Linked DNA regions of Homo sapiens: region 2 is linked to region 1. Evidence: fine-mapped expression QTL. A gene starts in region 1. The other region holds a variant in brackets. All regions are shown on one strand. Distances are from middle to middle. Region 1 holds the start of ACLY (ATP citrate lyase). Region 2 overlaps NKIRAS2 (NFKB inhibitor interacting Ras like 2).

Region 1 (15,461 bases):
TGGGCAAAAGTGAGTGGTGCGGAAGTTAGAATCCTTGGCTCTTCACAGGGTGGATGATGATGGGGCTTTGCTGGAAGCTCCTGTCTTGGGCTGTTACAAGGAGAGAGGTGGGTTTAGAACTGGATACTCTACATAAACAGAAAATGCATTTGAAAAAAATAGTAGCCGGGCACGGTGGCTCACGCATGTAATCCTAGCACTTTGGGAGGCTGAGGCGGGCGGATCACGAGGTCAGGAGATTGAGACCATCCTGGCTAACATGGTGAAACCCCATCTCTACTAAAAATAAAAAAAAAAATCAGCCGGGTGTGGTGGCACGTGCCTGTAGTCTCAGCTACTTGGGAGGGCGAGACAGGAGAATCACTTGAACCCAGGAGGCGGAGGTTGCAGTGAGCCGAGATCACGCCACTGCACTCTAGCTTGGGTGACAGAGCGAGACTCAGTCTCAAAAAATAAATAAATAAAAAATAAATAAATAAAAAGAAAAAAATAGTAGAACTGGGCCGGGCGTGGTGGCTCACACCTGTAATCCCAGCACATTGGGATGCCGAGGCAGGCGGATCATGAGGTCTGGAGTTAAAGACCAGCCTGGCCAACATGGCGAAACCTCATTTCTACTCAAAATAGAAAAATTAGCTGGGCATGGTGGCGGGCACCTGTAATCCCAGCTACTCAGGAGGCTGAGGCAGGAGAATCGTTTGAACCTGGGAGGTGGAGGTTGAAGTGAGCCCAGATCACACCATTGCACTCCAGCCTGGGTGACAGGGTGAGACTCCCTCTCAAAACAAACAAACAAACAAACAAAAAAATAGTAGAACTGGACACTTAGGTAGACCCTTCTCCAGGCTGCATCTCCTCCCTCCTCTCCCTGCCCTTCCCCTACAATTGCTTTCTTTCATTCACATATTATAAGAGCCTTTTTTTAGTCATGTTTACAGTGAATGCTTAATATGTGTCCAGTCCCATGCTAGGCACTGGAGATGCCAAAATGAACAAGGCACTCTCCTAGGCCTTGGGTTGCTTACAGTCAGATAAAGGAGATCCACTGGATAGGATCTTTCCCTCTTACTCACCTGCAGCAGGTTGCAGGGTACAGGCCCAAGGACTTGGAGTCTGAAGATCATTAGGTTAGTTGATCATAGGCAAAATGATGAAAACACTTAGTTAGCTCAAGTGGCTGCTGTGAGTAGTATGCCTTTCACATAGTAGGTGCTCAATAAATATTAACTAAAATTGGTCCAAATCTAGGAGGAAGTCCTTAGCCAGTTTTAGGCTTCTGGAACCCAGGTGGAATGCCCAAACCTGGGCTTGGAGATGGTGCCTATAACCCTCTGTATTCTGATAGGGACCTGTCCTCTAGTCCAGTCTAGAAGAGGAGGGAGGTGATTCAAATGGGAAAATCAAAAGAGTTTAGAGCTTTTATTTTATTTTTTATTTTTTGTAGAGATGGGGGTTTTGCCATGTTAGCCAGACTGGTTTTGAACTCCTGAGCTCAGGCAGTCCACCCGCCTTGGCCTCCCAAAGTGTTGGGATTACAGGCGTGAGCCACTGCACCCAGCCTGGTTTAGAGCTTTTAAGTTAGAAAATAGAATGATGAGAAGATGGGTTCTAGATTGATTAATTCAAGGCAGATGAACCTCTGTGGGTGCATGGTGGGGTAATGAGAGAGTCTTACTTGAGGAGGCTGGGCGTTGGGGGCAGAAACTTGGTATGAGACCACTGAGTGAACTGGAAAACCTCAGTGGCTGGCTCATGGGCCCTCTGGCCAGCACCTCTTCCCCCTCACTCTCTGGACAGTTATTTTTTGTTGTTCCTGCCCAGGAATAGTCAAACTTAGGCCTAGCAACACCTAAATGGAGGACAATCATTCAGCAAACATTTATTGAGTACTTACTGTGTAACCAGTCCCTATTTAAACTGCTAGAAATACAGCAATGAAGAAAATAGACAAAGATCCCTATCTTCGTCATGCACATACGCAAGTATATCTGAAGGATAAATTATTAGAAGTGGAATTACTGGACCAAAGGGCAAGTGAATTTAAAATGTTTACTGATATTACCAAATTGACCTTCAAAGAGTTTATTATATTTTATGTCCCGCCTGGATGACCATTTCCCCAGGAGTGTATTTGTCTTTCTTTTTTTTTTTCTCATACAGGGTCTCACTCTGTCACCCAGGCTGATGTTCAGTGGTGCAGTCACGGCTGACTGCATCTTTTTTTTTTTTTTTTTTTTTTGTCTCGCTCTGTCACCCAGCCTGGAGTGCAGTGGCGTGATCTCGGCTCACTGCAACCTCCGCCTCCTGGGTTCAAACGATTCTCCTGCCTCAGCCTCCTGAGTAGCTGGGACTACAGGCACGTGCCACCATGCCCGGCTATTTTTTTTGTATTTTTAGTAGAGCTTGGGTTTCACTTTGTTAGCCAGGATAGTCTCAATCTCCTGACCTTGTGATCCGCCCGCCTCGGCCTCCCCAAGTGTTGGGATTATAGGCGTGAGCCACTGCACCCAGCCAGCCTCCCGAGTAACTGGGATTACAGGCATGTGCCACCACATCCAGCTAATTTTTTGTATTTTTAGTAGAGATGGGTTTTGCCATGTTGGCCAGGCTGGTCTCGAACTCCTGGCCTCAAGTGATCTGCCTGCCTCAGCCTCCCAAAGTGCTGGGATTACAGGCTCGAGCCACCGTGCCCACCCAGCTCACTGCGTCTTTGACCTCCTGGGCTCAAGTGATTCTCCCACCTCTGCCTCCTGAGTAGCTTGGACTACAGGTGTGTGCCACCATGCCTAGCTAATTTTTTTTTTTTGAGACAGTGACTCACTATGTTGCCCAGGCTGGTTTTGAACTCCTGGACGCAAGTGATTTTCCCACCTTGGCCTACCAAAGTGCTCGGATTATAGGCGTGAGCCAGCATGCCCAGCTGCCCAGCTAATTTTTTATTTTTTGTAGTGACATAGACTCACTGTATTGCCAAGGCTGGGTTGGAACTCCTGGGCTCAAGCCCTCCTTGGCCTCTCAAAGTGATGGGATTACAGGCCTGAGCCTATGCACCTGGCCTCCCAGGAGTATTTCCTTCCTTCCTTCTTTCTTTTCTTTTCCTTTTTTTCTTTTTTGTTTTTTTTTTTTTTTTCTGAGACAGGGTCACACCCTGTCGCCCAGGCTGGAGTGCACAATCTCAGCTCACTGCAGCCTTGATCTCCTGGACTCAAGTGATCCTTCCACCTCGGTCTCCCAAGTAGCTGGGACTACAGGTGTGCACCACCATGCCCTGCTAATTTTTGTTTATTTTTTTGTTTTGTTTTGTTTTGTTTTGAGACGGAGTCTCACTCTGTGGCCCAGGCTGGAGTGCAATGGCACGATCTCTGCTCACTGCAACCTCTGCCTCCTGGGTTCAAGCAATTCTCCTGCCTCAGCCTCCCAGGTAGCTGAGATTACAGGCACCCGATACAGTGCCCAGCTAAATTTTTTTTTTTTTTTTGCTTTGAGATGGAGTTTTGGTCTTGTTGCCCCCGCTAGAGTGCACTGGTGCGATCTCGGCTCACTGCAACCTCCGCCTCCTGGGTTCAAGCGATTCTCCTGCCTCCGCCTCCTGGGTTCAAGCGATTCTCCTGCCTCCGCCTCCTGGGTTCAAGCGATTCTCCTGACTCAGCCTCCTGAGTAGCTGGGATTACAGGCACCTGCCACCACGCCCAGCTAATTTTTTGTATTTTTAGTAGAAACAGGGTTTCACCTGTTGGCCAGGCTGGTCTGGAACGCTTGACCTCGAACTCAGGTGATCTACCCACCTAGGCCTCCCAAATTGCTGGGATTACAGGCATGTGAATCACCACGCCCGGTCTTTTTATTTTTTGTAGAGATTTGATGGTGGTGGTGGGGGCTCTTACCATGTTACCCAGGCTGTACTTGAACTTCTGGGCTCTAGCAATCTGCCTGACTTGGCCTTCCAAAATTCTGGGATTACAGGCATGAGACAGCATGCCTTGCCTGGAGTGTATCTTTTTTTTTTTTTTTTTTTTTTTGAGATAGAATCCTTCTCTGTCACCCAGGTTGGAGTGCAGTGGTGCAATCTCACCTCACTGCAACCTCCACCTCCCGGGTTTAAGCGATTCTCATGCCTCAACCTCAAGAGTAGCTGGGATTTATAGGCGTGTGCCACCATGCCTGGCTAATTTTTGTATTTTTTGTAGAGATGGGGTTTTGCCTTGTTGGTCTTGAACTCCTGACCTCAAGTGATCCCCCACCTTGGCCTTCCAAAGTGCTGGGATTACAGGTGTGAGCCACCAAGACTGGCCACCCCCATTTTAGGACAAGAGAAGAGAGGTGATAAGGAACTGCTATTTCAAAAAGATGAATGGGAGGGAAGGGACCAGAAAGTGACATCATCAGGGAACACTTGATTCAGGCATGGGTAGCAAGTTCAGTTACCTTACTCCTGGCAGCAACAGGATTGGGGGAGGGGGTCTTGGAGAAGATTTTGTCTGCAAATGTCGCAACACTGTTGCAGTGTGAGTATGACCCAAAGTGCTTGGCAGGGGGACAGGCCTGCTGCTTCCCTGCATTCTGGGCTGACCTCTTCACCTGAGTCGGTCAGTGGACGCTTTTGGCCTCCTTCCTGGAGCTAGACAGCTGTTAGGCTTAGGGAGCAGCTCCGGACCTACAGGGTTGGGGTGCAGGTAGGGAGGGAGGCTGCAGCATGTCAGAGTGGTAAATACATGTCCTGATTTCCAGGACTGATTTCACATATTCTGCCCCACAAGTTCACCAGCACCTGTCAGATTGGATGTCCCAGTTTTTGGTTTGGAAAATTCGATCTGTCTCAGGTAATGGAGAAGGGGGAGACAGCAGTTCATTCATTCCAGTGTCTAAGCCTGTGGTTGGTGGGAACAAGAGACTGTCTGGGATGGCTCCAGCCCTTCGCTGGAATCTCGCATTGAATTCCTAGCTCCGCCCTGATCCGTGCTGAGGCGAGCAGGTGAGTGGGACGGACAGCGCTGTGCCTGCACCCTCCTAGCCCCACTTGCTTACCGCGGCCCCTGCCTTATCCCACACTGGGAAGTATGCTCTGTTAGCCTCGGCTCAGCCTTGCCTCATCGGCCCAGTGGGGAGAGTCCAGGGAGGAGAGAGGCTCCACGTGCTAAAGGAAAGCGGCCTGCCAGACACTGCTGCTTAAGGAGACTGTCTAAGCAATCGGATTCGGTGCGGCCGAGATGCAGACGTCCGTTTCTCCCAAGGGAAGGAGCAAGGGTACTCCAGGTCCCAAAGCTGCGTTACAGCCAGTTGGGCTAATCCTACCCGCCCCTCCCCCAACTCCCCGAGTGGCAATCTGTCCAGCCCCTCAAGCGATCAGGCCACAACCCCCAGCACCGCGCGTTCTCCTCCCAGCCTAGCCCGGCCCATCTCCCCACCCGGGGCCCCGCCCCGGCCCCGCAGGCTCCCAAGAGGCGGTGGATGGGCCAGCGGGACTACAAGTCCCAGCAGGCCCCGGGGCCCGCCCTCGTGGGGCGGAGCCAAGCCAGCAGCGAATTGGGAGGAGCCCTGGCGCTCAGGCTAGGGAACGCGTGTGGCCAATCGCGGGGCCGTTCTCGCCGCGAGCCGATGGGGGCGGGGAAAAGTCCGGCTGGGCCGGGACAAAAGCCGGATCCCGGGAAGCTACCGGCTGCTGGGGTGCTCCGGATTTTGCGGGGTTCGTCGGGCCTGTGGAAGAAGCGCCGCGCACGGACTTCGGCAGAGGTGAGCACGGGAGGCTGTTTTCGCTGGCTGGAGCCCGCTCGCCCTAGGAGCTTCCTGCCTCCGTCCCCCAACCCGGAACCGCCTTCCCCGACGCGGGCTCGGTGCCCACGCGCCCTGCTCGGAAGTTTTGAGGGTCTTAGCTTTAGGTTAGCCTTCGCCCGGGGTCCCGGCCGGTGGCCGCGTGTCGACGCCCCTCCCCTCCCCCCGCGCGACACACACATATTCCAGTTCCTGGGAGTTTGCATGGGGCTTGCCGCCATCCTTGCCTCTTCTGCCTCTGCCACATTGCATGGTCCCCCTCCTGGCGCGCCTCACCCCTCCCGGGCACAGCTATCGAGGCTCCTCGGGCTCATCGGGACGCCTTTTGGCTCCATCCGGGTTCCCCCATCGGATGCCGGGACGGGAAGTAGAGAAAGCGGTGGCGACTGGTCCCACTCCGATTCCTCACTGGCCGGGCTCAGGCCCTTCTTGGTTCCGTGGGTACAAAATTGAGCTCCACGCCCAAGTGGAGAGAATGAGCTATGCGCGCCTCCGGGGCGGGCCACGCGGGGCCAGGCTGCCCCAGGGTGCCCGAGGCCTCGCCTCGTCTCGCCGCGAGGACTGGAATCTCGCAGCAAGGACCCTCCTCGCACTGGAGGTATCGTCGAGTCCAGCCCCTAAGTGACAGATGGCCGGGGTGCCACCCCACCCTTGAGCTGACGCCAAGTCTGGCCGGGGAAAGGTCCTCAAGGGGCTGGAGGATGCTGCCGCCGCCCTCCTGTCGAGCCTGGCAATGGGCCAGTCCCAGCGCCTGCCGCGGTCTCCAACCTTGGCAGATACCGTGCAGTGCCGAGTTCTGCCGTTATGGGGTCCCTGGAGGTCTTCCTGGGAAGAGGATTTTGGAAGAGACGATAAGGAAAAGTGCACAGCACAGTTTGGCCAGCTAGCCTACTCCTCTCCACCCTTAACTTTCCTCTGTGTTTTCAGCTGGCTCAGCTGAACTAAAATGTGGGGTGAGGGACAGCTGGTAGGTCTCATTTGCCCAGATGGGTGATTTTCACCTCTTAGAAACCTTCCTAAACAGCTTGGGGGGCGGTAGTGGGAAGACCCCTCAGACACTGGACAGCTTATGGCTCCATCCCCGTTCTGACACTATGCCTGCCGCAGTAAGGGGCACTCACAGAATTCTGCCTCTCTAGAATTTACTCCAGGGATTGCCTGTCTTCTCAAAAAATAAATAAATAAATACCTACATACGTAAGTCCCAATCCTGCAGATACTAACCTTCAAATGAGTGTTTTTGTCTTTCCCAGAGGCACCCTTAGTAGCATCCCCAGTGATTCCCTTCCCCTGGCTGTGTCCCAGGGGCGTGTTCTGGGGAACAGGCTTCTTTCATTCAGCCTCCTGTGTGGGCTGCTTCTCTCAGTGTCTGCTAAAAGTGAACTCAATCCTGGGTCACTCACCCGTCTGCAGAAAGACTCCATTCAGCTCATAAGGCCCCTCCCTTAGAGAATGTGTGTATGTGTGTGTTTTCAGGTTCCTTGGCATGATTTCCCCCAAATGGTTTACACATTTAGCTGTTACCAAGTAACAGTTCCTGGAGTCCAAGCTCAGCCCAATCATCTGTTACTTGTTTGACAGCACATTCAGCTACTGGGGAGGCAGACTAAGACGTTCTGGGGAGCGGTCCCAAACCCAGATAGGTATTTGTAGGTATTTGCTGATTCCACTAGAGCAAATATTCTTTTTTTTTTTTTTTTTTTTTTGAGACAGAGTCTTGCTCTGTCGGCAGGCTGGAGTGCAGTGGTGGATCTCGGTTCACTGCAACCTCCGCCTCCTGGGTTCTAGCGATTCTCCTGCCTCAGCCTCCCCAGTAGCTACAGGTGTGCACCACCACGCCCGGCTAATTTTTGTATTTTTAGTAGAAACAGGGTTTCACCATATTGGCCAGGCTGGTCTCAAACTCCTGACCTCGTGATTTGCCCTCCTTGGCCTCCCGAAGTGCTGGGATTACAGGCGCAAGCCACCGTGCCTGGCCGCAAATGTTCTTAACTGGTGGTCAGTCTGTGGGCCATCGGATCATTGTCACAGGTGAGCACCTTGAAACAATATGCACAATTGGATTTGTGTACCTTTTTCTGGGGTTTTTTTCAGTCTCAGAAGAGTCTGAGGCCTCAAAGAGGTTAAGAGCCACTGCCTTAGAGAGACTTTAAGACCTCACTGAAGGCCGGGCGTGGTGGCTCATGCCTGTAAATCCCAGCACTTTGGGAGGCTGAGGTGGGTGGATCACGAGGTCAGGAGTTCGAGACCAGCCTGACCAACATGGTGAAACCCCGCCTCTACTAAAAATACAAAAAAAATTAGATGGGCGTGGTGGCGTGCATCTGTAATCCCAGCTACTCAGGAGGCTGCGGCAGGAGAATCACTTGAACCTGGGAGGCTGAGGTTGCAGTGAGCCGAGATCACTCCACTGCACGCCAGCCTGGGCGACAGAGCCAGAGTCCTTCTCAAAAAAAAAAAAACAAAACAAAACAAAAAAACAGAAGACCTCACTGAACCACTAAAGTTGCGATTTATCTCTACTGAGTCCACTCCCTGGGTTTGTGAGCCATTTGCCTTCTCTTTATTGGTGAATTTGCAGAGGCCTTATTTTTATTATGTTGTATACATTCCTTGTCTCAACCTCCCGTCTCTAAGCCAGAATGCTCTAGTGGCAAATCTCTTGTTTTCTATCCTGTATTATCCCATTGTGTCTTCTCTCCTATCCCCCTTCCAAAGACCCTATGGAGATGGGCTCTTGGACCTGAAATTTGATCTGGGTCTCAAGAAAACTGTGATTTCTCAGCTGCAGGGGTCCATTTTTTCTCCCTTGTCCTTTCCAAAGTTGGGTCTTGTGTCTGTTTTGGAGGTGCCAGGTTCAGGGGACTGTTTTACTGGGAGTCTCAGACTTCTTTCTTCTAGAGAGGCATAGCCCAGGGACTTCCTTTCCCCTGGAGTTATGGAAGGAGTCTGAATTGCTGAGGATGGTCAGCCACTGCCCCCTCCTCTCTGAGTGTTCCTTGATCTGCCCTGGGCTGCACTCTCTTTGGAAGGGGGTGGGGGCTGTACCCATTCAATCTGAGGACCAGTTTTTCTGGTCTGAGTCAAAAATATTGGGAAATGGAGCAGTGGGTGGGGGGTGGAGGACCGTGGGGCAGTGAGGTGGTTGGGACGTCTCTGGAAACTCATACTGAGAAGGAATCTCAAGTCATTCCAGGGGAAGGCCAGAAAAGGGAACATCTCTGAGCCCCTTCCCAGCTACCCCACTTTAGGCAGACACCAGGCTGAATACACCCATTGTGCCATGCTGGATACTAGCTAGGAGGCCGACAGAGGCAGCCAAGCCAGGATGAGAACCTGAAGCCCCACCAGCCTGGCCGATTGGGAGGGGGCGCAATGTAGCCCCTGGAATGTTGGCCTTCTCTGAGTTGGGAACGGAGACCCAACTTCCAGCACGTGTAAACAAGCCGGCTCCTTCACTCTGCCCTCCTTTATTTGTACTTGACTTTTTTCTCCCCCAGCAAATTAAACAGCTTTGCTTCTGGGCTTTGGGGGAGTCAGGAGTGACTTTTCCTGATCCGGCCAAGCTCTTGGCCTGAATTTCCATGCCCACCTCCCCCGATTCCCCTCCCCAGCTCAGTCCTTGAGTTACCCACAGGAGAATGGGTGTATCAGGACAGAGTCTTGGAGAGGGGAGATGATGAAATTCTTATCATAGACTCTTTGAAGTGAAAAGGACACATGGGCCTGGCTCTTGGAAAAATGGTCTTTTCTTGGGCTGGTGTGGATTTTTCTGGGGACCTAGGTGTAAGAGGGTTTGGGTTCGAGTCTTGGGTCATAACCTTGCTTATTATTAGGTGGGCTTCTTGGGCAAGTTATCCTAACGCCTCTGAGATTTTATTCCTCATCTAAGAAATGGGGTTATAAATCTCAGTGTACCTCCCAGAGCTCATATGAGATGAGTTTCTTTTTATCTTTTTTTAGACACAAGGTCTTGCTCTGACACCCAGGCTACAGTGCAGCGGTGCAATCATAGCTCACTGTAGCCTCGAACTCCAAGATGAGTTTTCCTATACATGTGATGGAGGATGGTTTCTGCCTCTTCCTCCTCCTCCTCTCAGTCCGCCCCAGTTAGAAGTGACCACTACAGGGTGGTCCCCAGAGAGGCATCTGTTCTTCTTAGTGAGTTTTGCTCTAAATTAGCAGCTGGATGACGCAGTGGGGCGGGTGGAATGTGCTAAAGGTCGGTTTCCCTGCCCTGTGTCTGCTCCATACTCAGGATTGGGAGGCTAGTGTCCAGGAGAAAAGAGGAGAAAAGAGCTTAGCGATGATCCTCCCCCCTCCCCTACTCCCCTTCTAACCAGGACCTGGGGGTGTGACCCTTTTTGAGGCTAAGTAAACTTGCTGGCTTGGCCATTGGCCCGGTGGTGTGTAAGGGTGTGTATAGGGGTAAATCTGGGTGTGGGGGAGATGAAACCTGTAGGGAGAGAAAGGCTAGCCTTTTGCAATTTCAGCCGTACTCTGCACTGGTCAGAGAACAGAAAGGTGTTTCAGTGTCTGCCCACCTCAGATGGGACCAGCACTCAGATTTGGGTCAAAGCACCGGTTTTCTTGGCCTTCTAGCCAGCTGCCTTTTGCTCCAGGATGAGTGTGGTTGTGGATCAGCTAGTTTGCCTAGAGGGAATGGGGCAGGGTAAGGCAAGAGTCCCAGGGGAAATGGCACTTTTGTTTTTCTCTATCTTCCCTCACCCATTATCTCTGGATCTTCTTCCTCTGCTGGCAAAAGTGCTGCTTGATATCTCTCTTCCATCCCTCCCGCTGGGACAGCATTTTTTCCTTCCTCTTGAGAAAAGCTGAGATCTGGTTTTATTGTCTGGGGGCAACTGGGAGTGGGTCTGCCCTGCTGGGGAAGATAGTGCCTCCACACGCCTGCCCCCTTCTGACCAGCTTCTCTCTCCCAGACAGGTAGAGCAGGTCTCTCTGCAGCCATGTCGGCCAAGGCAATTTCAGAGCAGACGGGCAAAGAACTCCTTTACAAGTTCATCTGTACCACCTCAGCCATCCAGAATCGGTTCAAGTATGCTCGGGTCACTCCTGACACAGACTGGGCCCGCTTGCTGCAGGACCACCCCTGGCTGCTCAGCCAGGTGAGCCCTGCCTCCACTTTGGGCCTTTCTTCCAGGCCCGGGGTCTGAGGAAGAGAAAGCCATTGGTTTGTTGGTGATGCCGATAGGGTCATGGGGTTGGAGGCTGCCAGCAGCAGCTGTGGGAAGCATGCCATGGGCTGAGCAGGGTTTGTGTTCATGCTGAGCCCTGCATGTTGAGGTACCCCAGCATGGTATACCCTGCCATGGGCTTGAAACTGGACAAACTGGTGTCCAAATCAAAGCTGTGTTTATTAACCATGTGGCCTGGGGCAAGCCATTTCACCTCTTTTGAGTTTTAGATTCCCCATCTCTCCAATGGGATAATACTCACTTTGAGCTGTAAAGATTAGCAAGAAGCATTTAGCGTGCTTGGTGCCTGGCACATGGTAGATGCTCAGTAAAAAGTAGGGATGTGCCCTCTCCTCCCCTAAGTGGAGTATATCAGGAATGTATCAAGGCAATTAGGAAGTGTGATGTTGTACTTTGTGAAGAATGGCCCCGACCCTGGAGGGTCAGCCTGGAATAGAGGGCTCTGTTCTTGAGATCTTTGCAGGGCCATTGTTAGAAAGCTCTTAGATTTCCTTGGCAGGGCTCAGAGAGTAAGCCTAGGACTAGTGGTGGTGTTTCTTCCCACTAGGAGGCAGCTCAACCACAAAGGGATGGAGGGAGTTTCCTGGCCCTGGAGATGTATGAGCAGTGGTTAGGGGCTGCTTATTGGGCCTGTTGTAGACAGGGTTCAAGCACAGGGATGGGGTTGACCAGATGACCTCTAAGGTTCCTTGCTGCCTCAAGGCTCTGTCTCTCTGTTTTCCTCTTTGGAACACATGTTCTGGTCCATATTCTGAGGGGCTTACTGTTGAATGAAGAAGCTAATGTATCACATAGGGAGGGTAGAGAATCACTTATTCACTCAGCAGGTATTTGCTGAGCGCCTACTCTGTGCCAGGCTCCATCTGGGCACAAATGCCTCTAGATACCTGGTTGTCAAAAGCAAGATATTGGCTAGGGTAGGTGGAGGAAGCATCCAGGAGTTGACTCTGAAGGATGGTTAGGGCTGGCTTTGGAGCAGAGTGAATGGGAAGTCAATCCCTGCTGTCCTCTATTTGGATCCCCAAAATACTACGGTTTATCTAATTCTTCCTCACTCTAAATACAAACCGCTTTTGTTCCAGAACTTGGTAGTCAAGCCAGACCAGCTGATCAAACGTCGTGGAAAACTTGGTCTCGTTGGGGTCAACCTCACTCTGGATGGGGTCAAGTCCTGGCTGAAGCCACGGCTGGGACAGGAAGCCACAGTGAGTGGGCATGGGGTCAGGATGAACGTGTGTGGTAACAGAAGCAAATATGGTCACCTCCAGGTCAGCAGCTCTGTGGATCACCCCCACAGCCAGTCTCATTGTAGCTCAGGGAAGGCAGGAGTCCTGTGGCGCTGACCCACTCAGGTGGCTGCCAGCAGTAGGCTCAGTCTTGATGCCCATTCCCAGCTCCCTCATCATCCAAACTTCTTTGTTTTATTGGTTTGGGCAAGATGTGCTGCAGAGGTAACCTCAATATAATTCAAGAGCCAGGTGGAAATGGTCTGATTCTTTTTTTTTTTTTTTTTGACAGGGTCTTGCTCTGTAGCCCAGGCTGGAGTGCAGTGGCGTGATCTTGGCTCACTGCAACCTCCGCCTCCTGGGTTCAAGCGATTTTCTAGCCCCAGCCTTCTGAGTAGCTGAGATTACAGGCATGCAGCACCATACTTGGCTAATTTTGTATTTTTAGTAGAGACGAGGTTTCTCCATGTTGGCCAGGCTGGTCTCGAACTCCTGACCTCAGGTAATCTGCCTGCCTCGGCTTCCCAAAGTGCTGGGATTATAGGCATGAGCCACTGCGCCCGGCCTACTTTATTTTTTTTTAAGACAGGGTCTCACACTGTCACTCAAGGCTGTAGTGCAGTGGCATGTTCACATCTCACTACAGCCTCCACTTCCCAGGTTCAAGTTATCCTCCCACCTCAGCTTCCTGAGTATCCGGGACTATAGGTGCATGCCACCATCCAGGCTGCTTTTTAACATTTTTTTATAGAGTTAGGGTCTTGAATGTTACCCAGGCTGGTCTCGAACTTCTGGCCTCAGGGAATCCTCCTGCCTCAGCCTCCCATGTAGCTGGAACCACAGATGTGTGCCACCAAGCCCAAATTCAATTATTAACTTCTCCCAGCTTGGTGATGAATTTCAACCACGTAGATGAGAGAGTTAAAGTGAAACATGGTTTAGGAAGGGTAAGAGATGCCTGGAATAAAATTATGTTTCTTCTTATTCCCCAGGGGAGCTGGAGGACTAAGGGAGGGAGTGGAGCTGAGGCCTGGCCTAGCCTGGGAAGAATGTGCCATCCACACCTGGCTCTGTAGAGCACGTGGCTCTGAAGGGCCTGGTGCTCATCTGGGGTGAAACTGTACCAGGGATGAGCTGTTCTCTTCCTTGGCTGCCTCGAGAATAGCAATGAAGGTGGTGATGGAGATGTCTTCCTCCCTCATTGGGCTTCCTCAGAGTAGCCCTTAAATGTTAATTTCCCAGTTTCTGGCCCTCATGGGTAAAGCGGGATCCTTGAAGTTGCACATGGACCCAGGCGTGAAGCGACCTGTCCCTTGAGTTCCCAGGCCTTTGGAGAGAGGATGGTGGGATTGGAGGGAGGGATGCTGAGCATGTCCCCAGGGAGCACATCCTGCTTCCTTCTGCTGGCCTCTGGGAGGGGAAGGTGGGACATCAGACATCTGAGCTGGCAGCAGCGTTGGGCCAGCAGGAGTGGCTCATTACCTCTTATGGATTGCTGTCTGGTCCCTGACTCAGCAGTGACGCACAGGCCAGGCGGGGGTTTTGGGACTTACTAGGATGAGGGCTGTCTCGCCACAGCCGCCGCCAGGGAATCACTCGAACTGATTAGCTCTGCAGGCCTGTGGTCCTCAGCCAGGAGAGTCTGCGTGGAGAAGTTTCCCTGATTAAGCCCTGGCTCCCCACTTCTCCACCCATTCCCTGCGCCCGGACCCATGTCCTGAGGCTGAGTCACTGTGCCTTCCTCAAGGCTCATGAAGCAGAATGGTTACCTCCCTTCTACCCGGTTTCCCCTCCCCGTCAAGCTCTGCCACAGCCGTGACTTGTTGGAGCCCTTTCACTTGCGCAGGTCCTGTGTCACCCTCCAGAGGAGGCCAAGAGTGGGCAAGGTCGGTGCCTGTTCAGGCACAGCCCGCACCAGAGCAAGGGGTGAAAGGGCATCTCCTGAGGACTTACTGAGCTTAGGGATCTGTGACCCCATTTTTTCTGGAAAAATCTCTCTTTGCTGGGTGTGGTGGTGGGAGTGCTTGGGCACCACCCCTGTGCAGTCCCTCCTTCTGCCCTAGGGGCAAGACGTGCTGTCCCTCTGAGTTTCATCTCCCTCAATTTTTCTGTAGGTTGGCAAGGCCACAGGCTTCCTCAAGAACTTTCTGATCGAGCCCTTCGTCCCCCACAGTCAGGTATGTGTGAGGCGGCTCCAGGCTGGGTCTTCTCCCTCCTGGAACCTTGGGTTTGTCCACCGTAACCTGAGGAAAGAAGTCAAGCTGATGAGGACAGTCAGAGGGACCAGGGTCCCTGAAGCTGCACTGAGGATCTGAGGGTGCTGCGGACTCGGGAGTCCAGAGGGGAAGGAAAGGGCTTGGTCTACAGCAGAGAGGAGTTAGGACTGGTAACAAAGGGGACTTCCAAGTGCAGGGATGAGAACGACCTGCAGGCAGGCCCCACCCCTCAGCTGGGGTTGGTCATACTGATTCAGTCTGGACCACCAGCCAGTGGGGTAGAGGCTTCTTCCTCTTGTCCTCGGGGAAAAGATGGTGGACAAGTCTCTGGATGAATGGTTTTCACTGGGTTTTAGAAAATGAGACCGTGGGGATTGGTTTCCTCTCCCAGTACATGGTAGACCATCTTCCCCAGTTCAGCGCCCCTCACCAGCTTCGCCCCCACAACCCCAATCCCACTGTCCTGTCTCTTCACCTGCAAGGCTGAGGAGTTCTATGTCTGCATCTATGCCACCCGAGAAGGGGACTACGTCCTGTTCCACCACGAGGGGGGTGTGGACGTGGGTGATGTGGACGCCAAGGCCCAGAAGCTGCTTGTTGGCGTGGATGAGAAACTGAATCCTGAGGACATCAAAAAACACCTGTTGGTCCACGCCCCTGAAGACAAGAAAGAGTTGAGTGAGAGGGACGGTAGGGAGGTGGCAGTTCGGATGAGAAGACCGACAGGCTCTGGGCACAGACTGGGGAGAGCAGAGCGGTCTCCTCTCTGGGAGCCAGGTGGTAGACACGGCCCTGTCCTGAGGAAGACAGCTGGGTGCAGGGCGGGGACTGGCTTGGAACCAGACTGAAATATGCCGCCAGCATCCCTCACCTCCTTGCCCCTGTCTGTCTGACACCTCTGCCTCCAGCTTCTCGCCTGACAGCTCCTTTCCGCCTCAGTGGCTGAAGAGCTATGTCCAGGGAGCAGGGGTTGCAGAGGAGATGGAAGGGCCAGTGGGGTGCGTTTAGGGAAATGGAGCTGTCGGTGGCAGTGA
Region 2 (15,461 bases), 110 kb before region 1:
ACCTCTGCCTCCTGGGTTCAAGCAATTCTCCTGCCTCAGCCTCCTGAGTAGCTGGGATTACAGGCGCCTGCCACCATGCCTGGCTAACTTATGTATTTTTAGTAGAGACAGGGTTTCACCATGTTGGCCAGGCTGGTCTCGAACTCCTGACCTCAAGTGATCCACCTGCCTCGGCCTCCCAAAATGCTGGGATTACAGGCATGAGCCACTGCGTCTGGTCCTTGGCTGTTTCTTAGCCCCACTCCTGGCAGTGTCTCTTCTCTTCAGCTATGACTGGGGAGTAGATGACCGTGCTTGTTTCTGACACACAGCACAGTGTCCTCTCTGTACACAAGCTGGTGGTTCAAGGGCCAATGGTTCCAGAGAGATAGTGGTTCCCTTCCTTCCCTCCTCACCAATAGGCAGCCTCAGGCCTTTTCTGTGTATAACTGTGTATATAGACATAAAAACCTACAAATGTGAAATAAATCTATGCTATCTTTCATAGTGTTACCACACAAACATCTAAAAGGACTACTTTTGGTTTTGCAATGACAGGGTCGAAAAAAGCCCCAGATGGGCTGGATTTTTTTTTTTTTCTGATATTTTCTTCCTCAAAGTCCAGTTGCTCTCCAAGTTCCTACCCCTCCCCTGCCCTTGCCTCAGACCTTTAAGACCAAAGACTGCAAAACCACAGTGCTGTACCTGCCACCTCCAAGGACTGGCGTCGAGGCCCAACCCAGGAATGTTGGCTTATTTACCTCCTGGGGGAAGCAGTTTAGGCCTCATCAGAGCTGGGGAGCACATCCCTTCAGAGCCCATGGGTTTCCCATTCCCTCCTGTCAGCCCTGGCCATGAAATCCTGGGGATCTGGAGGGAGGGAGGATAGTTAGAGAGTGAGAGGGGCGAGGGCTAGCCTTTTCCTAATACCCCTGGGTTTGAGTTTAATTTGCAATAAAATGGAATCCCAGCACATCATGCAGTCTCCATGGTGGTGTGTGTGTCAGGGCCTGCCCAGACCCCTCTGTCCCTCTCTTGGCTGGGCTGCCCTGGGGTTCAGTATGCTGCCTCAGTAGGGGCAGGAGGGTCATCCCTCTGGGCTGGGAGCCTCAACTGTGGACTCCCTGCCTCTGCTTCCCCAGCTGTGGGGAGGAAGGGCACAGAGAAGGGGGCTATAATCACTATGGGTCTGGCTGGTGCCACTCTGTGAAGAGAGACACAGGTTTCTGCCCAGCTCCACACCCAAGAAGCCCACCCGCCTCTTGTTCTGGCCACGGGGGTAGGACAGAGCCCATTTCAGACCCTGCCCTTCTTCCTCCTGCAGCAGGCCCGGCCTCCGGCGCCCCCAGCCCCCTGCTGGCCTCCCTGCCCCTGCCCACCCGGCCTCTGCAGCCCCCGCTGGACTTCAAGCACTTGCTCGCCTTCCACTTCAATGGCGCTGCCCCGCTCAGTCTCTTCCCCAACTTCAGCACGGTATGGGCTGGGCTGGCGGGTGGGGGCATGCACACAAGCTTGTGGGTGGGCACAGAAGGTGGGTTCAGAGGGTCCAGCTCTCAGCAGCTGGGTCTAACCAGGAGCTTTTTCTCCAACATCCCCCAGAGGGGATAGGTGCTCCCCAAATAGGGACCCCTATTTGGGATCCTAAGAGAGGGACCCGCTCTCTCTTAGGCTGGGGAACAAGATGGTGTCAGCCCTTTCCCCACCCCCACCATCATAGCTGCTGGGCCTGCAAGGGCCTGTAGTCTGTGCATTCCACTTAAGCTTCTGTGTAGGCGCTCCTGTGGATGACGTGTGTGTGTGTGTGTGTGTGTGTGTGTGTGTGTGTGTGTGTAACCTGTGCCTTTTTGTTGTAGTTTCTATAGGTTTTGTATGTTATATGTGGATGTGAGTTTGTGTGTTGGTGTCCAACGTGTGTTTGTAAACAACTCTTTGTGCATGGGTAATTTTATGTAATTAAGGTATGTGCCTGCACAATCTGAGGGTTTATTGTGTCCTTGTGTCTTTTGTGTGTTTGGCGTGTATCTGCCCTCTGAGCATGCGTGTTTTTGTGTGGCTTGGGTGATTGTGAGTTTACCTGTGGTCATGTGCCCTTTGTGTGCATGAGTGTGAATTGTTCTGCTTGTCTGAGCATTTGTAACTGCCTGAAGCTTCTGTGCTGTGTGTGTGTCCTAGTCTGTACATTTCCTTGTACACGTGTGCATAACAAGTATATGAATTTTAATTCACTATATGAGGGATCAGCAACCATCTCTGTTTTTTTAAATTTTGAAAACTCAAGTGAAATCATGGGTGTGGCATGCCCCATCCTGAGCAGATGGTGGCAAACTCCACCTCAGTCACACTTAGGAATCCCTTCCCTCCCACCCTCCAGAGTTAGACAGAGGTCCTAAGGAGTCTGAGGCATTTGGGGGGTGGTCCTCTGGTCTTGAGTCCTTGCTGTCGCTTGCTGACAGGCTCACTGTTGAATGGCATGGTTCCAATTGCAGGGGGCCCCTGCAGGCCATTCTCCTCTGAGGTCCTGTCCCCTGAGCCCCTTGCTGGCCCTGGGTGCTGTGAAAATTTGAACCACTTTCTGTTCTCAGGGAAGTTTCTGCACCCATGTTCTTCTCTCTAAGCTCTGTTTTCTTTTCTTGGGAAGGTTTGGAAAGTTCCTTTTTTATTTTATTTTATTTTTATATAAGCAGAGATGAGGTCTCACTATATTACCCAGGCTGGTCTCAAACTCTGGAGCTCAAGGGATCCTCCCACCTCGGCCTCCCAAAGTGCTGGGATTACAGGTGTGAGCCACCACGCCCAGCCTGGAAAGTTCTTGACAAGTTCAGACAGCTGCATTTGGCCCAACTTCCTGAGAAAAGGGAACATAAAGCCTTAATTCTATAGAAGAAAAAAATGATTTAAAATAAGGAAAAGAAGCTAGGTGCAGTGGCTCATGCCTGTCATCCCAGCACTTTGGGAGGCTGAGGTGGGCTGATCATCTGAGGTCAGGAGTTTGAGACTAGCCTGGCCAACAGAGATGGTGAAACCCCATCTCTACTAAAAATACAAAAATTAGCCGAGCATGGTAGTGGGCACCTGTAGTCCCAGCTACTTGGGAGGCTGAGGCAGGAGAATCGCTTGAGCCCAGGAAGCGGAGGTTGCAAGATTTTGGCTCCGCCATTGCACTCCAGCCTGGGCGACAAGAGGGAGACTCCATCTCAAAAAAATAATAAGGAAAAGAAAAAAAATCCAAATTAATATTCCAAAGAAACGATCCTACTCCTTGGGGAACCTTAGGCCTCCACTTGCTGCTCCCTGCCCCCTACTGGCCCCCCACCTCCCCTGGCTGTGGCTCTCACTCTCTCAAGAGAGGTCGTCATGGCTGGGCACGGTGGCTCACACCTGTAATTCCAGCACATTGGGAGGCCAAGGCAGGCGGATCATTTTGAGGGCAGGAGTTCGAGACCAGCCTGGCCAACATGGTGAAACCCTGTCTCTACTAAAAATAACAAAAATTAGCCAGACGTAGTGGTGGGCGCCTGTAATCCCAGCTACTCGGGAGGCTGAGGCAGCAGAATCACTTGAACCTGAGAGGTGGAAGTTGCAGTGAGCTGAGATCATGCCACTGCACTCCAGCCTGGGCGACAGAGCAGTATTCCATCTTATAAAAAAAAAAAAAAAAAAAAAAAAAGGTCGTCAGCAGCCTCAGGCCCTGTGACAGTGATAGAGCTGATGAGATAGGACTTATCTTCCCCCAGCCCACAGGTCCCTGCATGAAGCCTGGGTGATGGGAGAGGAAATTCCAACAGACGAGTTCTTTGTCTCTTCCCTGCCTCTCCTTGTTTCCAACTCTCTGTCCCAATAGTTGTAATTATTGCAAAGGAGAAAAACAAAAAACAAAAATAATGACCTAAGGGGCACCAAGAGATGCCAAGGTGATCACCAGGACATGGTTCTATGTCCCAGAAACATGCAGGGCACTCTGGCCATTCCCCTGCTTCCAAGCAGAAGCCTAGGCTGACAAATAAAGACAGCCGGGAGAGGCTGTGTATTTTTCTTTTCTTTTCTTTTCCTTTCTTTTCTTTTCTCTTCTCTTTTTTTTTTTTTTTTTTTTTGAGACAGAGTCTCACTCTGTTGCCCAGGCTGGAGTGCAGTGGCGCAATCTCAGCTCACTGCAACCTCTGCCTCTGAGGTTCAAGCCTCCTGCCTCAGCCTCCTGAGTAGCTGAGACTACAGGCACGTGCCACCACACCTGGCTAATTTTTGTATTTTTAGTAGAGAAGGAGTTTCTCTTGGCCAGGCTGGTCTTGAACTCCTGACCTCAGGTGATTCACCCATCTTGGCCTCCCAAAGTGATGGGATTACAGGCGTGAGCCACTGCACCCAGGCAGCTGTTTCTTCTTCTTTCTTTCCTTTTCTTTTTCTTTTTCTTTTCTTTTTTTTTTTTTTGAGACGAAGTTTCGCTCTTGTTGCCCAGGCTGGAGTGTAATGGCCTGCTCTCGGTTCACCGCAACCTCCATCTCCCTGGTTCAAGCAATTCTCCTGCCTCAGCCTCCCGAGTAGCTGAGATTACAGGCATGCGCCATCACACCTGGCTAATTTTGTATTTTTTTTTTAGTAGAGATGGGGTTTCTCCATGTTGGTCAGGCTGGTCTTGAACTCCCAACCTGAGGTGATCTGCCTGCCTCGGCCTCCCAAAGTGCTGGGATTACAGGTGTGAGCCACCGCGCCTGGCCCAGCTGTTTCTCTTTCCAACATCCACAGGATGGAAAAGTTCTTCCTAGAAGCTGACCAAGGCCCTCTTCAGTCATCTTTAGTTTTGGGCATTTTGTGCTGCCCCCGACCCCTGCTTCCCAAGCCAACCCCAGAGTTATTATGCCCTCCCACTCCCTTCACAGATGGACCCGGTCCAGAAAGCTGTCATCAGCCACACGTTTGGTGTCCCCTCCCCTCTGAAGAAGAAGCTGTTCATTTCCTGTAACATCTGTCACCTGAGGTTCAACTCAGCGGTGAGACAAAGTAGTGAAAGCAGGTCTGGGGAGGGGGCTGGGCAGGGAGAGGGCTGGAGGCTGGGCTTTCAGAGTCCTTCTGGGAGGAATATCAGTGGCAAAGGGGCTGTGGTCGGTATTTTCCACCCTGGCTGCAGAAGAGGCACTCTTGGTCCTTTAACCATCGCATCCTCTCCTCTCTCTAGATTCTTCTGCCCCTTCCCCTTCTGCCCAGCTGTAGCCCAGTGGGATTCCATTTCCTTCCCCCCAGGCCTCTCTCCTGTGTTCTGGATCCTTCTGCAAGAGAGAAGACTGCCCTTCCTCCACTCCAGGTCCCAGTGGCCCATCTCATCAGCTCCTGGTCTGGAGCTGAGCTCTTAAGGCACCTGAGAGTTTACAGAATGTGATCATGCCCATCCCCTTAAATAATAGTTTTCATGATACATCTGTGAGACGGGTGGAGGCGGGATTTTTTTGTTTTGTTTTGTTTTTTTAGACAAGGTCTCACTCTGTCACCCAGGCGGGAGTGCAGTGGCGCAATCTTGGCTCACTGCAGCCTCCACCTCCAGGGTTCAAGTGATTCTTGTGCCTCAGCTTCCCTAGTAGCTGGGATTACAGGCATGTGCTACCACGCCTGGCTAATTTTTTTATATTTTTGGCAGATACAGGGTTTCACCATGTTGCCCAAGCTGGTCTCGAACTCCTGGGCTCAAGTGATCCACCCACCTCAACCTCCCAACATGCTGGGATTACAGGTGTGAGCCACCGCGCCTGGCCTAGAGGCGCTATTATAATCCCCGATTTTCAGATGAGGAAAGTGAGCCTTAGAGAGGTTAAGTGACTTGCCTAAGACCACACAGCTGGTAAGTAGCAAAGCTGGGATATGAATCCAGGCCTGGCTGACCCCAAGGTCTATGACTTTCTACTACAGCCTACCCCTTTCTACTACATCTTACCACTAGGTAGAGGAGGAACCTCATTCTGGCCTCCCAGGGAAGGTCTACCTCCTGTTAGGCAATCTGGGGTTTCGGTTGGATGCCAGCAGAACTGCTGTGGTATAGCATCCAGGGAGGGGCCATGGGGGCCTGTCTTTCCCATGTTTCAAGGAGGTGGGCCGGGGAGCAGCAAGTGAGGACCCTTGGAGGGAGGACACTGACAGACCAGATTTGAGGATTCCCTTCAGGCCTTCTGGTTCCATGAGTCCTGCAAGAGATGGAGGAGAGGCTGGGCGTGGTGGCTCATGCCTGTAATCCCAGCACTTTGGGAGGCCAAGGTGGGTGGATCACTTGAGGTCAGGAGTTAGAGACCAGCCTGGCCAACATGGTGAAACCCCATCTCTACTAAAATACAGAAGAAAAAAAAAAAAGCAGCCAGTTGTGGTGACAGGTGCCTGTAATCCCAGCTACTCGGGAGGCTGAGGCAGGAGAATCGCTTGAACCCAGGAGGCAGAGGTTACAGTGAGCCTAGATTGCTCCCGTTGCACTCCAGCCTGGGTGACAAAGCGAGATTCCGTCTCAAAAAAAAAAAAAGATGGAGGAGAGAATTCGTTCTGAGGGAGGAACCATTCTTCTTCCTGCCGGACCCCGGGCACAGTGCCTGGCAAATAGCAAATGCTCAGTAATGACTTGTTGAACAAATGAACAAAGGGATGAATGTTCTGGGGTACATACACCCCAAAGTGTGGGGATTGCTCTGCTTTCTCCATTTGTGCATTGATACACTTGATAACTAACATTCATTGAGCACCTACTCTATGTACTCGGCCCTTGTAATTCATGTTCCCATGTAATTCTGACAACCCCATGAGGTCAGTATTATCATCACAGGGTTTATGGGTGAGGAGACTCAGGCTCAGAGAGATGTTACTTGCCTAAAGATGTAGTTAGTGGCCAGGCGTGGTGGCTCACGCCTGTAATCCCAGCACTTTGGGAGGCTGAGGCGGGTGGATCACGAGGCAGGAGATCGAGACCATCCTGGCTAATATGGTGAAACCCCGTCTCTACTAAAAATACAAAAAATTAGCCGGGTGTGGTGGCGGGCGCCTGTAGTCCCAGCTACCCCGGAGGCTGAGGCAGAAGAATCGCTTGAACCCGGGAGGCGGAGGTTGCAGTGAGCTGAGATGGCGCCACTGCACTCCAGCCTGGGCGACAGAGCGAGACTCCATCTCAAAAAACAAAAAACAAAAACAACAACAACAACAACAAAAAGATGTGGTTAGTAAGTGGCTGGGTCAGATCTGAAGCCAGAGGCAGCCTGCCTTGGAGTTCATGTGCGAGAACACATTCTGCAAACCTCAGAGCCACATGTGCTATGGTGATGATGATGACAAGGACAAGGACTTGCCCTTTGTGTGACCTGAGCCCTGCCTCCCTTTGACCTGTCCCCCTGCTGGGCTCCAGTTCACAGATGGGGCATGTGGACTCAGCCAGTGAATGGTGACCTCTTGCCCTCCCCTCCCCAGAACCAGGCCGAGGCACATTATAAAGGCCACAAACACGCCAGAAAACTCAAGGCTGTCGAGGCTGCCAAGAGCAAGCAGAGGCCACACACCCAGGCCCAGGATGGGGCTGTAGTGTCCCCAATCCCAACGCTGGCCAGTGGAGCCCCTGGAGAGCCACAGAGTAAAGGTCAGTCCTGAGCTCTTCTCTTTCCCACGTCTCCACTCCAAATCTGGTTTCCGACAAGGGGTTGAGAGATTTCTGCTTATTCTTTTTGCTTGTGTTGGAGTATTCCATACAGACAGGCAAAGGCACACAAGTGTACCACGCCATGAATTTTCCTAAGCTGAACACACCCAGATCAGGAAACACGTTACCAGCACCTCAGAAGCTTGTCTTGCACCTCCTCCTGGTCATTACCTTGAAGTATTCATTTCCAAGGGCTGCCTTCACAAATGACTTCATTTGTGAAGTTAGGAATGGTGGCTCACATGTTGTGATGGTTAACACTTTGGGAGGCTGAGGCGGGAGGATTGCTTTAAGCCTGGAGTTTGAGACCAGTCTGGGAAACATGGTGTGACCCTGTCTCTACAAAAAATTTATTTGCCAGGCATGATGATGCACACCTGTAGTCCCAGCTACTCAGGAGGCTGAAGCAGGAGGATCTGCTTAAGCCCAGGAGGTCGAGGCTGCAGTGAGCTATGGGTGACAGAGCAAAACCTTGTCTCTAACCTCCCCTGCCCACCCCCACCCCCAAAAAAAGAGACTACAACCTGGGTGACTGAAAACAACAAAAATTTATTTTCACACAGCTCTGGAGGCCAGAAGTCTGAAATCAAGGCGTTGACAGCATTGGTTCCTTCTTGGGGGCTTAGAGGAGAAAGTGTCCCATGCTTCTCTTCTGGCCTTTGGTGGCTGCCAGTATTCCTTGGCACTCCTTGGCTTATAGACGCATCACTCCAATCTCCACCTCCATCTCCACATTCTCCCTTGTGTGTCCCTGTGTTTCCACAAGCTCTTTTTATAAGGGTACCAGTCACTAGATCAATCCCACCCGAACCCAGCATGACCTCATCTTAACTAATTTTATCTTCAAAGACCCTGTTTCCAAATAAGGTCACATTCTGAGGTTCCAGATAGATGTGAATTTTGGGGGAGACACTATTCAACTAACTACAACCCCTCTGATGGTAAATACGATCCTGACTTTTCTCAGCATAGATCAGCTTTACCTATTTTTGGTGAAACATAGAGTGTGCAGGGGTTTTTTTGTATCTGTTTTGTTTTGTGGGTTTTTTTTGTTTTGTTTGTTTGTTTTTTGAGACAGAGTCTCGCTCTGTCTCCCAGGCTGGAGCACAGCGGTGCAATCTTGGCTCACTGCAACCTCTGCTTCCTGGGTTCAAGCCATTCTCCTACCTCAGCCTTCCAAGTAGCTGGGACTACAGGTACCTGCCACCACGTCCAGCTAATTTTTGTATTTTTAGTAGAAACGGGGTTTCACCATATTGGCCAGGCTGGTCTCGAACTCCTGACCTTGTGATCCACCCACCTCGGCCTCCCAAAGTGCTGGGATTACAGGCGTGAGCCACCCTGCCTGGCCGGTATCTAGTTTTTATTCATCTCTCACAAACATTCATCAACATTCATTATATCTGTAAGATTCATCCATGTTTTTGCGTGTAGCTGTAGTTTGTTCTCTTTCATTGCTGTGTAGTACTCCACCGTGGATCATACCACTATTTTTTTTTAATTTAAATTCTTAAAAGCTCTTTTTTTTTTTGAGACAGGGTCTGGCTCTGTCACCCAGGCTGGAGTGCAGTGGTGTGACCTAGGCTCATCCACCTCCCTGGCTCTCAAGCGATTCTCCTGCCTCAGCCTCCCAAGTAGTTGGAACTATAGGCATGTGCCACCATGCCTGGCTAATTTTTGTATTTTTAGTACAGATGGTGTTTCGCTGTGTCACCCAGTCTGGTCTCGAAGTCCTGGACTCAAGTGATCTGCTAACCTTGGCCTCCCAAAGTGTTGGGATCACAGGCGTGAGCCACTGCGTCTGGCCCATACCACTGTGTTTTTTTTGTTTGTTTGTTTGTTTTTGAGATGGCGTTTCACTCTGTCGCCCAGGCTGGAGTGCAGTGGTGTGATCTCAGTTCACTGTAACCTCCACCTTGCAGGTTCAAGCGATTCTCCTGCCTCAGCCTCCCGAGTAGCTGGGATTATAGGCATGTGCCACCACGCCTAATTCTGTATTTTTAGTAGAGATAGGGTTTCACCATGTTGGCCAGGCCAGTCTCGAACTCCTGACCTTAGGTGATCCACCTGCCTCGGCCTCCCAAAGTGCTCGGATTACAGACATGAGCCACCGTATCCAGCCCGCACCATTGTTTTTTAAAAATCTGCTCTCCTGTTGGTGGACATGTGGGTAGTTTCAGTTTTATGATATTATGAATAGTGTTCTCTGAACATTCTAGTACATCTTTTTTGGTGATCTCTGTTTAAGTTAGCAAATAAGGATATGAGGGCTGTGAGGGCTTTCTGAGACCACTGTGTCCAACTTAATGATTTCAGATGGGGAAACTGAGGCCCAAGTCTGCCCAGTGAGTTGGTAGAAAAGTGGGGCCTGGAATTCAGTGCTGGTCATCCACCAGGGGCCCTCCAGGCCACCTCCATGGTCAGAGCTGAAGATCGTGGTCTGCAGCGTCATCTTGGGTCTCACACTCTTCCATCTCTGCAGCAGTTCCTGCAGCCCCTCCTCTTGGGCCTCCACTCCAGCCACCACCAACTCCAGACCCTACATGCAGGGAGCCAGCCCACTCAGAGCTCTTGGATGCTGCCTCCTCATCCTCTTCTTCCTCCTGCCCACCTTGCTCCCCAGAGCCTGGGAGAGAGGCACCGGGGCCTGAGCCAGCGGCAGCTGC[C/T]GTGGGAAGCAGCATGAGTGGGGAAGGCAGGAGTGAGAAGGGGCACCTCTACTGCCCCACGTGTAAGGTGACAGTGAACTCGGCCTCCCAGCTTCAGGCTCACAACACAGGTCAGTAGTCCCAGGAGCTGGAGCCCAGGGAAAGGGTGGGACAGAAGCTAAGCCTCGCCAGATGAGGGCAGGCTTGAGTTCCTGGGTGCTTCGCTCAAGGGTTGGATGGCGGAGGCTTTGTGCTTGTGTGTTACTGAACGGACGTTTCTGGGTCCTCCCATTACTCCTTGGGGAAGGAGAATTGGGAAGAGAAGTCTGAGGCAGCAAGAACTGAAGGTCGCTAAATCTCTGAAGGGTCACTCCACAGGAGACAGGAGACATCTGCCTCTCTCCTTAGATTACACCCAGAAGGAAAGGACTGAGATCAAAGCAAAGGGGAAGGCAGCTATTTGTAGTGCAGAAAGGCCTTTCATAGGAGGGGCTGGCATGAAAGGACAGAAGCTGGGAGGGGAAACCACGTGTGGCTGGAGGGCGATGTGTGCACAGAGCAGCCGTGAGGCTTACAGGGAGAGCCAAATTGCATGAGTGTGGAGGGGGTCTCTGTGGCCCCTGCAACCCCTTCCTGCTGCTGAGAGACTGCCTTCTTCCCTCTCCAGGAGCCAAGCACCGGTGGATGATGGAAGGTCAGCGAGGGGCTCCCCGGAGGAGCCGGGGCCGCCCGGTGTCCAGGGGAGGTGCCGGACACAAAGCCAAGAGAGTCACAGGGGGCCGGGGCGGCCGGCAGGGGCCCAGCCCTGCCTTCCACTGTGCTCTCTGTCAGCTCCAGGTCAATTCAGAGACCCAACTGAAGCAGGTGGGAGAAGTGAGGCTGTGACTGGGGTTGGAGCCAGGGGAGGGGGTTGGGGGGCAGGGCAGCAGAGGGAGGGACCCTGAAGAGAGCAGGCAGGGCACAGCAGAGCAGGCTGGAGAAGCGAGGCCAGCAGGCCAGTGGGCCAATTAAGGGCAAAGGCCAAGACTCACCTCCCCTTCCCAGGGCCTACCCCAGGGTGAGGACCCAGTCTGTGTGCTTTGGATGTATGAGCTGTGGATAGAGGAAGGGGAAGAGTCGAGGATGATGGTCTTGGGGTCCTTGGGCTTTGTCATCTTGTTCCCAGTCTGTCTGTCTGTCCATTAGCACATGAGCAGCAGGAGGCACAAAGACCGCCTGGCCGGGAAGACCCCCAAGCCCTCCAGCCAGCACAGCAAGCTGCAGAAGCACGCAGCGCTGGCTGTGAGTATCCTCAAGGTATCTGTCTCCAGGCAACAGAGCTGGGACTGGGTCAGGAGGGGAGAGGGTGGGCTGGGAGGGCCAGATGGGGGGGCTGCGGTGGGGCAGGAAAAGAGGCCACCCTGCAATGAGGCTGCTGGGCAGTGACAGAGCTAGGCCTGGGAACTGGGATCTGCGCAGAGGAATTTCCGGGGAGGTGGGTTGGGATAGTCATCTTAGGGGCAAGAGTGAGGGGTGGGCGTGCATCTCCTAGAGACCATCTCTATCCCGTAAATCCTCCTCCCTTCTCCCATGCTGAGACTTTCCTCCCTCTGGACAGGAAGACAGGTGGTGGAGAAAGCCCTTCGGAATGAATGTTTGGGGGTGGGAAGGGAGGAGGATTTAGGTTTGGAACTCTAAAAGGCACGCTTTCCCTGCAGCAAAAAGCTTGAGGATGGGCCCCAGGGAGGGGGTGGGGTTTTCTGGGGTGGAGACTGTGTCCATTCCTTTCTTTTCCGTGTAGTCTAAACTGGCCTTGCAGAAGCAACTCACCAAGACGTTGGCAGCCCGCTTCCTGCCCAGCCCGCTCCCCACCGCAGCCACTGCCATCTGTGCTCTGCCAGGGCCCCTGGCCCTCCGCCCTGCCCCTACAGCAGCCACTACCCTCTTCCCGGCTCCCATCCTGGGCCCAGCTCTGTTTCGCACCCCAGCAGGAGCTGTCCGCCCTGCCACAGGACCTATCGTCCTTGCCCCTTATTAGCCCTCATGGGGAGGCCAGAGCTGATTTCCCAATAGCCACTCCTTGTCTCCTCCTGTCCTGAGACACCTTGGTTTCCTACATGCCACAGGGACTGTGAACAGCTTCAGGGGTCCTGCCCGATCCAGAAAGAGCTGGGCTAGTTTTAAGGGCAGCTGCCTTCCAAGGACTGTCCCCACCCTCCTTTCGCAGGCCTTCCAGGGTTAATCCTAGGCTTGCCTGCATTTCCCACCCTGACAGACCCCAAAGATCTATGCAAAATCTCAGCCCCAGCCATGTGGTGCTCTCACTTTCCTCCACCCAAGACCCACATGGCCAGACTCTAGGAATCTTAGCTTCTACAAGCCATCCTCTCCTAGCCAGGGGACGACTCTCTGACCTCTATTCCTAGGCTTTGGGGCTTCACTGGAGATAGGGATGGGGTCTCTAGCTGCAGCAGGCTCAAGGCTGTCAGGACAAGGTGACCATGGGAGTGTGACAGAGGACCATGGAGGAGAAAGGGGGACCCAAAAGTCCTTCGATCAGCAGTGCTAAGGTGGGGCAGAGCCAAGGAGGTAGTGGGGCTGGTTCTGAAAGCTTTTGGGGGCTTCATCTGCTCTGAAGGGGTGGGACTAAGAGAGGAGGTGATGTTCTGGTTGGGCCCAGGGTTTTGTTTTAATCTTAAGTCTTCTGGGCATTCATGGGCCCAGTCTTTTTTTCTGTCTGAGAGTATCATTCTGTTGCCCAGGTTAGAGTGCAGTGGTGCAATCTTGGCTCACTGCATGCAGCCTCTGCCTCCCTGGTTCAAGTGATACTTGCTGATAAGCCCAGTCTTAATATTGAGGGAGTAACTCATCCCTCAGAAGCTCTTCTTCTTAGCCTTTCTCTGACTTCCTGAACCCCAACTCTTGGAGGGCGGGTGTGGGTCTCCCTCAGACTATGGACTCAGCTAACACCGAACCCCCCGCAGAGCTCCCAAAGGAAGAGCTTTCCCCTACAGCTTCCCACTCCAAACTGGTCCTAGCACTAAATTCAGCTTTCCCTTCTCCCAACCAGCCCCTGCCACTGTGAAGCTGAGTGTTGGGAGGCAGTCTCACATGCACTGGCAAGACCCATTTTCATGCTGTCAATGTCAATGTCACAAACTCCTTTCCACTGCAGCACTGCCCCCTCCCCACCCCACAATATGGGACCCTGCCAGTATCCCCCTGTATCTTTTTTTTGTTTTTTAAAGACATTTCCAATGGGAGAACCAGAAAAAGGGGGAGGGGAGGGAAACTTTTTGATAACAATTGTGGTTTTATTGTGTCCAACCAATGCATCAATAAATGAACTTGAAGCCCAAGCCTGTGTGTGTCCTAATTCCACTCACCCAGCCCCGGGCACCTGCCCCACTCACCTCTGGCTTTGAGAAGGGGCGTGTGTCGGTGGTTGCCTGGCTGCAGTGTCTCACCTAGGCTAGGTGTGCACCTTAGAAGCACAAAGCGGGCACAGTTGTGGGTAATAAGCTTACTCTGCAGGCCGCTGGGTGTGTGCCCACCCTCCTGAGCCCCGAAAGAGGACCTGTCAGCTCCTGAGAGGCTGCTACGGGTTTGCCTTGTTCTGTTCAGGCATCTGAGGTAAGAAGGAGGGGCCAGAGGAGCACCTTGTCCAGCCTTCACCATGAGAGCGGGCATATAAATATAAATACAGGTAACTTATAAATAGAAGTCCAGCTCTGAGCTGAAAACCACAGGCAGGATAAAGAGCAGCCTCCAAGAGCGAGGCTGGCGGGCTGGGCACTGAGCGGCCACTCTGGTGACTGACAGCAGGTAGTGCACTCCTGCCCCCTGGTGGCTGGAGGGAGCGGCAGATCCCAGCCTCCAGGGCTGGTTGGCATAGCACCTTAAAGAGGGAGAAGCCATTGGCTTTACGAAATCAAGAGAACTGGAAAGGATCTAGGAGATCATCTAAGCAACTCTGGTCATCTTACAGATGAGAAACTGATGCCCAGAGAGGGGAAAGGTCTTGCTGGGTCACAAAGTGGGCTGGTGACTCATAGCCCAGTTATTCTATTCCATCTCAACCAGTGAGGCCCATCTGCTCCCTGAGCAGGAAGAGGAAGTAAAACAATTGGTAGGGGTGGGGAATTTTTTTTTTTTTTCTTCGAGATGGAGTCTTGCTCTGTTGACCAGGCTGGAGTGCAGTGGCACGATCTCGGCTCACTGCAGCCTCCGCCTTCTGAGTTCAAGCAATTCTCCTGCCTCAGCCTCCCCGGGTAGCTGGGATTACAGGCATGTGCCACTACGCCCGGCTAACTTTTGTATTTTTGGCAGAGATGGGGTTTCACAATGTTGGCCAGGCTGGTCGTGAACTCCTGACCTCAAGTAATCGACCCGCCTTGGCCTCCCAAAGTGCTGGGATTACAGGGGTGAGCCACTGAGCCCAGCCAGGGGTGGGGGATTTAAAACAGAAAACTACACTCCCAGGAGGCCAACTTCTTCCAGCCAAGAAAAGGACAGGAGAAAGGTCAGGGTGAGGGATGAGGAGACGCCTAATGCCAGTATAGGAGCATATTTGTGTGTGCACAACTAAATGCATACACACAATACCTGGACACCCTTTTTCTGGAGTCCAGGCTGGTGCCATAAGTGTGTGTGTGTCGCTGATGGGAAGCCCAGAGGGTGGGGCCCCTACCTATAATAGGAACTCAGACCCAAGAAGGGACACTGCTGCGTGGTGACTCTGCTTCCTGTCTGGGGCAGCTGGAAGGGACAGTGACCCACAACTGCCCCAGGAGACAGTGGAGCAGATCCTCTAAAAGCTGGGATGGGGAGTAGGCTGGGAGGGCTGAGGAAGGGGATGTCAACCAAGAGTATTTGCACTTCCCAGAGGTGAGAGGGAGCAAAGTGGCTGGGGCGTGGCCTGGCGGGGAGCTCCCTGGCTGACTGGGAAAGACAGCTTGTCCTCTACTTTGCCCTCAACACATCTACCAGAGCCCCAGACACTGAAATGGGGCTGGGATCGTGAAAGAGGAACGGCAGCTCTTCAGCCATCCAAGGAGCCGCTGCCCTTGTTCTTCCGGCTGAGGGGGAAGGCAGACTTGCTCTGGGGTTGCGTCATCTTGCTGGCCAAGTAGACAAAGGGCTCCAGGAGGGAGCGCCGGTCCGCCACTGACACCTCCCACAGCTTCACCTTCTCTGACTTGGCCCAG

The links. PIP is the estimated chance that this variant, and not a neighbour inherited with it, causes the effect.
Region 2: its variant is fine-mapped to the expression of ACLY in whole blood (TOPMed, PIP above 0.99).

The regions. Positions count from the first base shown.
Region 1 is chr17:41,909,149-41,924,609 of GRCh38, reverse strand. It overlaps ACLY (ATP citrate lyase), which reads left to right and starts at 5,659. Exons shown (of 29, transcript NM_001096.3): 1 at 5,659-5,730; 2 at 10,714-10,895; 3 at 12,068-12,190; 4 at 14,326-14,388; 5 at 14,910-15,100. The coding sequence starts at 10,737. RefSeq lists silencers at 5,277-5,536, 6,017-6,256 and enhancers at 13,367-13,866, 13,366-14,565.
Region 2 is chr17:42,023,728-42,039,188 of GRCh38, reverse strand. It overlaps NKIRAS2 (NFKB inhibitor interacting Ras like 2), which reads right to left. Exons shown (of 4, transcript NM_017595.6): 4 at 13,548-15,461. The coding sequence ends at 15,296. It overlaps ZNF385C (zinc finger protein 385C), which reads left to right. Exons shown (of 9, transcript NM_001392013.1): 3 at 1,304-1,452; 4 at 4,854-4,964; 5 at 7,405-7,570; 6 at 10,116-10,406; 7 at 10,943-11,139; 8 at 11,461-11,571; 9 at 12,056-13,613. The coding sequence ends at 12,292. It overlaps C17orf113 (chromosome 17 open reading frame 113), which reads left to right. Exons shown (of 3, transcript NM_001358661.2): 3 at 1-957. Among named protein-coding and RNA genes, the nearest start is that of NKIRAS2, 11 kb to the right of the region's middle. RefSeq lists enhancers at 9,644-10,432, 14,203-14,252. The variant C/T (reference allele first, on the strand shown) is at 10,297.